Regions from separate parts of the Homo sapiens genome. Here region 1 is linked to region 2. The links come from fine-mapping of genetic effects on gene expression. Tissue or cell type: whole blood. Region 2 holds a variant in brackets; the other region holds the start of a gene. All regions are shown on one strand. Distances are between the middles of the regions. Region 1 holds the start of CC2D1A (coiled-coil and C2 domain containing 1A). Region 2 overlaps CC2D1A (coiled-coil and C2 domain containing 1A).

What was found. PIP is the estimated chance that this variant, and not a neighbour inherited with it, causes the effect.
Region 1: CC2D1A starts here. The variant in region 2 is fine-mapped to the expression of CC2D1A in whole blood (TOPMed, PIP above 0.99). The same link has a PIP of 0.9 or more in lung.

What each region holds. Positions count from the first base shown.
Region 1 is chr19:13,903,124-13,908,489 of GRCh38, reverse strand. It overlaps CC2D1A (coiled-coil and C2 domain containing 1A), which reads right to left and starts at 2,289. Exons shown (of 29, transcript NM_017721.5): 1 at 1,989-2,289. The coding sequence starts at 2,048. BRME1 (break repair meiotic recombinase recruitment factor 1) reads left to right here and starts at 2,373. Exons shown (of 9, transcript NM_001345843.2): 1 at 2,373-2,775; 2 at 3,577-3,628. The coding sequence starts at 3,598. RefSeq lists a silencer at 1,915-1,974.
Region 2 is chr19:13,924,141-13,929,506 of GRCh38, reverse strand. It overlaps CC2D1A (coiled-coil and C2 domain containing 1A), which reads right to left. Exons shown (of 29, transcript NM_017721.5): 18 at 2,917-2,990; 19 at 2,782-2,840; 20 at 2,635-2,686; 21 at 2,430-2,529; 22 at 2,242-2,332; 23 at 1,477-1,614; 24 at 1,319-1,383; 25 at 65-128. Among named protein-coding and RNA genes, the nearest start is that of PODNL1, 12 kb to the left of the region's middle. The variant G/A (reference allele first, on the strand shown) is at 2,552.

The DNA.
Region 1 (5,366 bases), 21 kb after region 2:
GTCTCCAAAAAAAAAAGAAGAGCAATTAGAAGCCCTGACGACAGGGCCAGGTGCAGTGGCTCACGCTTGTAATCCCAGCACTTTGGGAGACCAAGGTGGGGGGATCACCTGAGGTCAGCAGTTCGAGACTAGCCTGGCCAACATGGTGAAATCCCATCACTACTAAAAATACAAAAATTAGGCCGGGCACGGTGGCTCACGCCTGTAACCCCAGCACTTTGGGAGGCCGAGGCAGGCGGGTCACCTGAGATGGGGAGTTCGAGACAGACCAGCCTGACCAACAGGGAGAAACCCCGTCTCTACTAAAAAATACAAAATTAACCAGGCATGGTGGCGCATGCCTGTAATCCCAGCTACTCGGGAGGCTGAGGCAGGAGAATCGCTTGAACCCGGGAAGCGGAGGTTGCAGTGGGCCGAGATTGCGCCACTGCACTCCAGCCTGGGGCGAGAGAGCAAGACTCTGTCTCAAAAACAAACAAACAAAAAAAGAACCCCTAACCACAATGCAGGTTTGCCATGCAGACCCGTCTTCCTATCTTGGCTAATGACCAATCATGATGTGATAACATCGTGTTTAACCATATGAAATTGCCTTTCCTGTAGGTAAAAAATGGCCAAATATTGGCAATTATGTATGGTTCCACCAACTAGTAATAATGATAATAGTAACATTTATTGAGTGCTATGTTCTAGCACTTTCCATAAACTATCTCAATGACTCTCTACAACTGTCCTGTAATGTAGGGTCTCTTGGAGGTCTCCATTTTTAATTTTTTATTTATTTATTTATTTTCAGAAGGAATTTATTTATTTATTTTGAGAAGGAGCCTTGCTCTGTCACCCAGTCTGGAATGCAGTGGCGCGATCTCAGCTCACTGCAACCTCCGCCTCTCGGTTCAAGCGATTCTCCCACCTCAGCCTCCCGAGTAGCTGGGATTACAGGTGCCCGCCACCATGCCCAGCTAATTTTTGTATTTTTAGTAGAGATGGGGTTTCGCCATGGCCTCCCAAAGTGCTGGGATTACAGGTGTGAGACACCACCCCGGACTTCCATTTTTAATTTTTTATCTTTATTTTAGAGAAAGAGTCTTGTTCTGTCACCCAGGCTGGAGCAGAAGTAGCGCAATCATAGCTCACTGCGGTCTTGAACTCCTGGGCTCAAGCAATCCTCCCTTCTTAGCCTCCCAAGTAGTAGTACTACAGGCACATGCCACCATGCCCAGTTAGTCTTTTTTTGTCGAGACGGGGGTCTTGCTTTTGCCCAGGCTGGTCTCAAACTCTGGCCTCAAATGACTCTCCCACCTCTGCCTCCGCCTCCATCTCCTGAAGTGCTGGGATTATAGAGATCTCCATTTTACAGATGAGAAAGCTGAGGCTCAGAGCTGTAAAGTCAAGTGTCCGATGTACAGAGGCCAGGAGGGAACTTCAGGTCAGCCAGACTCTAATATCTGAACACCAAGCTATGTCCTGGGCTCCTTCCATCAAAACTGAGAAAAATCAAACTATCTGGTGCCTGGGGCAAAGAAGTCGGGAGAGTGAGAAGGGGTCCAGCCACAGTGCCATAAGCTTATGGCTGCAGCCCTGGATTTGTGCTTAGCCCTGGCCAAGCTGTTAATCCCTATGACCTTGGGCAGATGTCTTCACGTCTCTGAGTCTCAAAGTCCTCATCTGTACAATGGAATAAAAAGAGTCTGACATGGCCCGACTGATGCAAGGGTTTGATGTGTCAAGTCCGAGGACTGCCCCTCCTCGACTGGAGCAGCTGTGGCAACAGGTGGCCCCGAACCCGGGGCAGGGCCCCAGGAGCTGGGGAGCCAAGGCCAGTAGGCCACACTTGGGTGGTGTTGGAGCCTCACCTGGGGGGAGGCGGGGACCGGGGCTTACCTGTGGGGCGGAGATCGGGCTTCCCTGGGGGGTGGGGCCCTTCCCTGAGCGAGTGACGGGGGTGGGGAGGGATCCCCAGGTCGGGCCGTGGGGCGCAAACTCACCTGGCGGGCGGCCGCGGCGCCTCTGCCCGGGGGTCCCGGGGGTCCTTTCCTCTTGTGCATCTTCAAGGCTGGATGCCCGGACCACCTGCCCCCAAGCCCGGCCTTGCCCTGCCTCCTTCCCCGGGCTCTGTCGCCGCGCACTCGCCCTTCCTGAGTCCTGCACTCCTCGTCGGCGCCCCGCGGCCGTCGATCCCGAGCCCTCGCTTCCCTGCTTGGCCGTCCCACTTCCGCCTCGGGCCTCGGGCGCCGCCGCACCGGAGCGCGGCCACTGGGCTCGCCGGGTCTGCCGAGCCGAAACTACAACTCCCGGCAGGTAGTGCGTGGGCGCGCAGGCGCCTGGCTGGGGCGGTGCTGACTGTCGCGGGCTGCGAGGGCGGTGTTTGCGTCGCTCATGCGCGGGGCGGGACCTCGCGGGGCGCGGGAAAGAGGCAGAGCGCGCGCAGGTGTGAGGGGCGGCGACATCTGTGGGGTTCAGAGCGTCTGTCAGTCACCGACGGGCTCCGGCTTCACGTGGGCTCTCGGCCTGTGGAGTCCTCACTTCTCGGTGGTCGGCGTAGTGTCAGTGTGGGGCTTGTCACCGGGAGCGGGGTCTACAGCGCCCACCCTCAGGCCTTTCCATCTTTCACCTCCGGACTCGAGGCCTCCAGCGTTCTGTGAGGGCCAATTTGGCCATTTATTTTTTCCAAAAAGAGTAACGCGGATAATTCAAGCGACTTATTCCCAACTGATCCAGGCAGAGCTCGTTTCTGATAAGGACAGAGGGTCCTCAACGACTTCTGTGGCCCAGGTCCGTTCTGGTTTGCCTCGCCCCCAAGGCTGGGAGAAACCGGCCTATGGCAGCTCTTTCCCCTCCAAGGACCCAGCTGTCCCCTTTAAAGTGGCACGATCTTGGCTCATTGCAACCTCTGCCTCCTGGCCTTGTACCACAGCCTCCTGAGTAGCTGGGATTACGGGTGTGTGCCACCGCACCTGACTAATTTTTTTTTTTTTTTTTGAGACGGAGTCTCGCTCTGTCGCCCAGGCTGGAGTGCAGTAGAGCGATCTCGGCTCACTGCAACCTCTGCCTCATGGGTTCAAGGAATTCTACTGTCTCAGCCTCCCAAGTAGCTGGGATTACAGGTGTGCGTCACGATGCCCAGGCTAATTTTTGTGTTTTTAATAGAGAGGGGGTTTCACCATATTGGCCAGGCTGGTCTCCAGAGGCCCCTGGAGAGTCCTCAAGTGTCCTTGGAAGGGCCCCCAGATACCCCAGTCTGGAGGGAGGGGCTTCACACAGGCTGTTTCATCCTAGGGACCAGAGTCTGGGTCCCCGGGGCTATCTATAAGGACCCCCCAGGGCCCATTTGTCTTTCAGGTCCTGGGCATAAGATCTTCAGTTTGGAGGAGGTTTGAATTCCTACCTGGCCATGGCCCAAAGTGGCTGTGACTCTGTGTCCCATCCTGTGTCCCAGTGGGAGCCATCTGACCCCTGGGGCAGCCAAATGGGCTGAGGTGGAGGTAGGGGTAACCTCTGCTCTCAGCCAAAGCCACTGGATATAAACAGAGACAGAGACTGCTTATAATGATGAGAGATTTTGCTTGTTTTCAGATTTCTCAAGGGGAAGATAAAATGACTAAGAGGAAGAAGCTGCGGACCTCAGGTACGTTCATTCAAATGGACACTTGTTGATTTCTGCTTCTGCTTGTGGGAAGAATGTGGGCTTGTTTATTGCAGATCTGGCTAACACGACTGCCTTAACCTCCTTAAAAGGAAGCAAGGATTGGCCGGGTGCGGTGGCTCACACCTGTAATCTCAGCACTTTGGGAGGCCGAGGCGGGCAGATCACAAGGTCAGGAGTTCAAGACCAGCCTGACCAACATGGTGAAACCCCGTCTCTACTAAAAATACAAAAATTAGCCAGGTGTTGTGGCACATGCCTGTAGTCCCACCTACTCGGGAGACTGAGGCAGGAGAATCGTTTGAACCTGGGAGTCCGATGTTGCAGTGAGCCAAGATGGTGCCACTGCACTCTAGCCTGGGCAACAGAGCAAGACTCTGTCTCAAAAAAAAGAAAAAGACAAAAAGGATTTAATTCATGCTGGTAAGAAAAATAGAAGGCCGGTGTGGTGGCTCACGCCTGTAATCCTAGCACTTTGGGAGGCCGAGGTGGGCGGATCGCTTGAGTCCAGGAGTTCAAGACCAGCCTGGGCAACATAGCGAGATCCTGTCTCTACAATGTAAAGTAAGGAAATTAGCTGGGCGTGGTGGCAGGCACCTGTAGTCCCAGCTACTCAGGAGGTTGAGGCAGGAAGATTGCTTGAACTGGGAGGTGGAGGTTGCAGTGAATCCAGATCGTACCACTGCACTCCATCCTGACTGATAGATTGAGGCCCTGTCTCAAAAAAAAAAAGAAAGAAAGAAAAATAGAAATAACGGAGAGGGCATACAGGAAAAGTAAAAGTGAAAGTTTTCTGGAGCTTCTGCAAGCCTCTGGTGGGGTCCCACAGCTTAGAGGAGGCCTCCCCGGGCTTCAGGGCAGCGGGACAGCCTCCCTGCGGAACCAGTCCCAGAGATGACCCCTGGAATAATGCTTGATGTACTACAAGGCCACTCGGTATGTGGCTGAGTGTTTTACTCTGGGGCCCAAAACCTGGGTTCATCCCAGTTCTGCTCAGTGTGTGGTGGTGGATGATTTCCTCTGTGCCACAGTTTCCCCTTTTGTAAATTGGGGATAATAAAAGCCACTACCCTTTCCTTTAGAGCAGTGTTTCTCAACTAGGTGAGAGGAAGGGATTTTGACCTCCAGAGACAGCTGGCAATGTTTGGAGACTTTATTTTTTTTTTTTTTGGAGACCAAGTCTGACTCTGTCGTCCAGGCTGGAGTGCAGTAGCAAGATCTTGGCTCACTGCAGCCTCCACCTCCTGGGTTCAAGCGATTCTGCAGCCTCAGCCTCCTAAGTAGCTGGGACTACAGATGTGCACCACCACGCCCGCCTAATTTTTGTATTTTTAGTAGGGATAGGGTTTCACAATGTTGGCCAGGCTGGTCTCAAACTCCTGACCTCAGGTGATCTGCCTGCCTCAGCCTCCCAAAGTGCTGGGATTACAGGTGGGAGCCACCGTGCCCGGCCTAGAGACTTTTTTTGGTTTTCATAACTGGGGAAATTATACTGACATCTAGTGGGTGGAGGCCAGGGATGCTGCTCAAATATCCTACCATGCATAGGATGCCCCCCAGCCACAGAGAATGATCCAGCCCCAAATGTCCTCCAAGGTGAAGAATCCTGCCCTTAGAGCTCACATGTGGATTAGTATCTGTAAAGCACCCAGAACTGACCTAAGGTAGTACACAAATGTACACTGCTGTTAACAATTCTTCTTCCAGACTTTTAAGAAAA
Region 2 (5,366 bases):
ATCCTGCCTGGGCCTGCAGACTCCCCAGTCCTGCCCCATGTAGCCCGGCAGGATGGATACCCACCTTCCGCTCCAGACGCTCTTGGTCAAACGCCAGCACACTGAGGCTATGCAGGGGCCGGGCTGATCTAAGGGGTGGAGGAAGGATAAGGGACTGCAGAGATTCCCCCAGCCCAACCCTGTTAATTCAAAAGACACACTGGGCTGGGCACAGTGGCTCACGCCTGTAATCCCTGCACTTTGGGAGGCGGAGGTGAGTGGATCATGAGGTCAGGAGTTCGAGACCAGCCTGGCCAATATGGTGAAACCCCGTCTCTACTAAAAATAGAAAAAAAATTAGCTGGGCATGGTGGTGTGCTCCTGTAGTCCCAGCTACTTGGGAGGCTGAGGCAGAAGAATTGCTTGAACCTGGGAGCTGGAGGTTGCAATGAGCCGAGATCACACCACTGCACTCCAACCTGGGTGACAGAGCAAGATTCTGTCTCAAAAAAAAAAAAAAGCCGAGCATGGTAGCTCATGCCTGTAATCCCAGCACTTTGGGAGGCCGAGGCAGGCAGATCACCTGAGGTCGGGAGTTCGAGACCAGCCTGACCAACATGGAGAAACCCCATCTCTACTAAAAATAGAAAAATTAGCTGGGTGTGGTGGCGCATGCCTGTAATCCCAGCTACTCAGGAGGCTGAGGCAGGAGAATCGCTTGAACCCCAGAGGCGGAGGTTGCTGTGAGCTGAGATCGCGCCATTGCACTCTAGCCTGGGCGACAGAGCTAGACTCTGTCTCAAAAAAAAAAAAAAAAAAAAAAGACACACTGGGCACTGGGGGTATGGTGGGAGACAGCCGAGAACCACCCGGTGTTACTGATCCCAAAACCTAGCGGGGATGATGGCTGCACACCCAGGAAACTATGATGCCTAGTGGTCAGGGAGGGCTTCCTGGAGGAGGTAACAGCCAAGTTGGGATCCAAAGAAGGAATCAGAGGTGGGCAGAGGAACAAGGAACACCCCTACCCTAGGTAGGGGTGTTCAGGGCACTGGAACCCACAGAAGTCCAGAGGCCAGTGAAAACTATTCATGGACATGAACCACAGGAGGGAGTAGGGAGAGAGAAGCCTGGATATGTTGACAATGGTCAGATCACAAAAGGTTTTAAAGACCAAACCAAGGAGTTTAAACTGGATCCTCTGGGAAAAGGGGTGCCAAGAAAGGTTTTGCAGCAGGAGAGGGACGTGGTCCAATTTGTGCCTGGTGGGAAACTGTCCAGGTGGGGCTGAGAGGGGAATTGGGTGTTTTCTCCAGCATGCCCTGGCCCAGATACCTACCTGTTCCCTGACTCCCTTGCAGGGGCAGGCACAGGAGGGGCCTTCCCTTTGGGCCCAGCAACCTGCTTCAGAGGAGAGAACCAGTCCTGTGAGTCCTGGGCCCCTGAACCAAGCTTCCCTCCCTGGGGTTGCTGATGGGTGGGGGTGGGGGGTCTCACTGTGGGCACAGCTGCCGGCACAGGGTCAATGACCAGCCACCTCTCTGTCGTCGTCTCCAACTGCTGGGCTGTCAGTGGCTCCCGAATCCGGACCATTACCTCCAGTCGCCCCCCTGTGGGCCGGCGACCATCCAGGACCTGGGTGGGGGTAAGGAGAAACTGTTGGTGGGAAGCAGGAAGTGACTAGAGGCCCAGGGCCAGGACAAGGGAGAACAAGACTGGTTTTTTTTTTTGGTTTTTTTTTTTTCTGAGATAGAGTCTCGCTCTGTTGTCCAGGCTGGAGTGCAGTGGTGCAATCTGGGCTCACTGCAAGCTCCGCCTCCTGGGTTTACTTACGCCATTCTCCTGCCTCAGCCTCCCGAGTAGCTGGGACTACAGGCGCCCGCCACCATGCCTGGCTAATTTTTTTGTATTTTAGTAGAAACAGGGTTTCACCATGTTAGCCAGGATGGTCTCGATCTCCTGACCTCGTGATCTGCCCGCCTCAGCCTCCCAAAGTGCTGGGATTACAGGCATGAGCCACCATGCCTGGCCAAGAGTGGTTTCTAAAATATGAGCCCATGGTATGGCTGAGATACCAGTTGATCATAATGGAGTGGGGTACTGCAAGTATTTAGGGCTGGGCAGTAGGGAGGTCTGAGGCTCTGAGGGGAGGGGCTGGGTCAACAGACAGGCTCATAGAGGGCTCAAGGCAGGAAGTGTTTTAATAATGTTAACGAGTAGCATGGCCATACCGGAGCACGCGGATGAATGTCCACCTCTCACCTCAAGGATCTCCCGGACCTCACATGCTATCTCCAGTGCATCCAGCTTCAGCTGGGCTGTCCCCAGCACCCGGTCAGTCTTGAACAGCCCCCTGTGTGCATGTGTGTATAGTGGGGACAGGATGGTTGGTTCAGAGGAGCTCCCCTCCCCTGGAGCCCACCCAGCGGCCATGGCTCTCTCTAGCTCACCCCTTGTGAACCACTTCGAACTTGATGCCCTTGGTCTGGATGGCCCTTCGGAAGCCACGGTGGCTGCGGTTGATGCAGAGTTTGAACTGCTCCTTGAACTCTGCAGGAGGAAGGAGGGAGAG[G/A]AAGTTGGGTGGGGTCAGGCCATTGTCTTATGTCCCTTCTGCTGCAAGGGAGTAGGGGTAGGGTGCTTCCAGCCGAGGCTCACCAGGGGAGTCTGTGTTCTTGATCACACTGGTCTTGTCTTTCTGAGCTTCTTCCTATGACCAGAGAGGAGGCAGGAAATCTAGGGGGCCTGGGACCTGGCTTTGGCCCACTGAGGCTGCAGCCCTCCCCTCCTCAGCTCCCCACGTACCACGTTGGGATAGGGGAAGTCAAACCGAACAAAGACATCCAGATCGCCAGGGGACAGTCCTGTGGGCAAACAACGGTCAGAGCTGGGCAGAGAGGGGGTCCCCATGACCCTGACCCTTGCCTACAGCCCCCTCACCTGGGGGTGTGGGCAAGTTGATGCCCTTCACGATGAAGAGGAGCATGTCGTTGCTGCTGAGGTCAGGGAAGATCCTTCCGGGTGGGCAGGTGGGCAGGCAGGTGGGCAGGGAAACAGAGGCACCTCAGTCCCACTGCCCGCCTGCCTTCTCTTCCCCCAGTGGGGGCAGGGAACAAACCCCACCCTGGCCTTCGGGGGTGTCTCAGCTCCTGGGCTCATTTTAGAATCAGACAGACTAGAGTTCTCTGTTCAGGTTGGCAATGGATCACTTTCGAGTCTTTTCTTCAGTCTGTGTATATTTATTTGGTATCTACTGTGTGCTAGGTACCCTAGCTGCTGGGTGATATTCCCTTCACTTAACAGTTGTTGAGTCCTACTAAGCATCAGCCAGTGCCCTAGCTGCTGGGAGATCTTTCCTTCATTTCCCAATGTTTCTTGAGCACCTACTATGTGCCAGCCAGTACCCCAGCTGCTGGGGGACCTTCTTTTCACTTAATATATATGTGTGTGTGTGTGTGTGTGTGTATATATACATATATATACGTGTATATATATATATATACACATATATATACGTATATATATATATACACACATATATGTATATATATATACACATATATATACGTGTATATATATATATATATATATATATATTTTTTTTTTTTTTTTAGACAGAGTCTTGCTCTGTCGCCCAGGCTGGAGTACAATGGTACGACCTCAGCCCACTGCAACCTCCACCTCCCAGATTCAAGAGATTCTTCTGCCTCAGCCTCCTGAGTAGCTGGGATTACAGCTGCCCGCCACCACTGCTGGATAATTTTTATATTTTTAGTAGAGATGGGGTTTCACCATGTTGGCCAGGCTGGTCTCGAACTCCCGACCTCAAATGATCCGCCTGCCTTGGCCTCCCAGCCTGGCCTCACTTAATATTTTTTGAGTCCTATTAAAGCACCAGCTAGTGTCCTAGTTGCTGGGGGACCTTCTATTCATTTCACAATATTTCTTTTTTTTTTGAGACAGTCTCACTCTGTCGCCCAGGCTGGAGTGCAGTGCGATCTCTGCTCACTGCAAGCTCTGCCTCCCAGGTTCATGCCATTCTCCTGCCTCAGCCTCCTAAGAAGGTGGGACTATGGGCGCCTACCACCACGCCCGGATAATTTTGTGTATTTTTAGTAGAGACGGGATTTCACCATGTTAGCCAGAATGGTCTCGATCTCCTGACCTCGTGATCCACCCACCTCAGCCTCCCAAAGTGCTGGGATTACAGGCGTGAGCCAGCACGCCTGGCCTCATTTCACAATATTTCTTGAGCACCTACTATGTGCCAGTCAGTACCCTAGCTGCTGGGGATCTAGAAGTAAATACCCATACCCTGTGCTCAATCTAGCTGAGTGGACAGATGAGCATAAGTACATAAATAGAAAAACAATAAAAAACTCAGCAGAGAGGGGAGAGTGGAGTGTGCTCAGAAGAGACTGCTCGGATAGATAGGGAGGGCCTCTTAGAGGGAAGGTGACATCATAGGTGACTCTAGATGTCAAGAGGGAGCTGCCACATGGAGACCTGAGGAAGAGGGTGAAGGCGGAAGAAATAGCTGATGCAGAGGCTTGGGGTAGGAACACACTTTGTTTGTAGGAGGGACCAAAAAGAGTCCCTTGTGGCCAAAGCTGAGTGAAGCGGGGACAGGAGGCAGAGAAGAGGTGACAAGGAGCCAGGCTGTGTGGAGATGGGGGAGCCAGGGTAAGGGGTGGGGGTTATCCCAAGGGCAGCTGGGAACCACCGGAGGGCTAGTGGCTGCACCTAACCTCATTTAGAAAGTGGAGAAAATGGGCCGGACGCAGTGGCTCACTCCTGTAACCCCAGAATTTTGGGAGGCCAAGGCAGGCGGATCATTTAAGGAGACCAGCCTGGCCAACTGAATGAAACCCCGTCTCTACTAAAAATACAAAAATTAGCTGGGCATGGTGGTGGGCACCTGTAGTCCCAGCTATTTGGGAGGCTGAGGCAGGAGAATTGCTTGAACCTGGGAGGCAGAGGTTGAAGTGAGCTGAGATTGCGCCACTGTACTCCCGCCTGGGTGACAAAGTGAGACTGTCTCAGAAAAAAAATTTTAAAAAAGGCCGGGAGTGGTGGCTCACGCCTGTAATCCCAGCACTTTGGGAGGCCGAGGTGGGCGGATCACGAGGTCAAGAGATCGAGACCATCCTGGCTAACACGGTGAAATCCCGTCTCTACTAAAAATACAAAAAATTAGCCAGGCGTGGTGGTGGGCGGCTGTAGTCCCAGCTTCTCGGGAGGCTGAGGCAGGAGAATGGCATGAATCCAGGAGGTGGAGCTTGCAGTGAGCAGAGATCACACCCCTGCACTCCAGCCTGGGCAACAGAGTGAGACTCTGTCTCAAAATAAAAATAAAAATAAAGTGGAGAAAACAATCCCCGCTCCTCTGG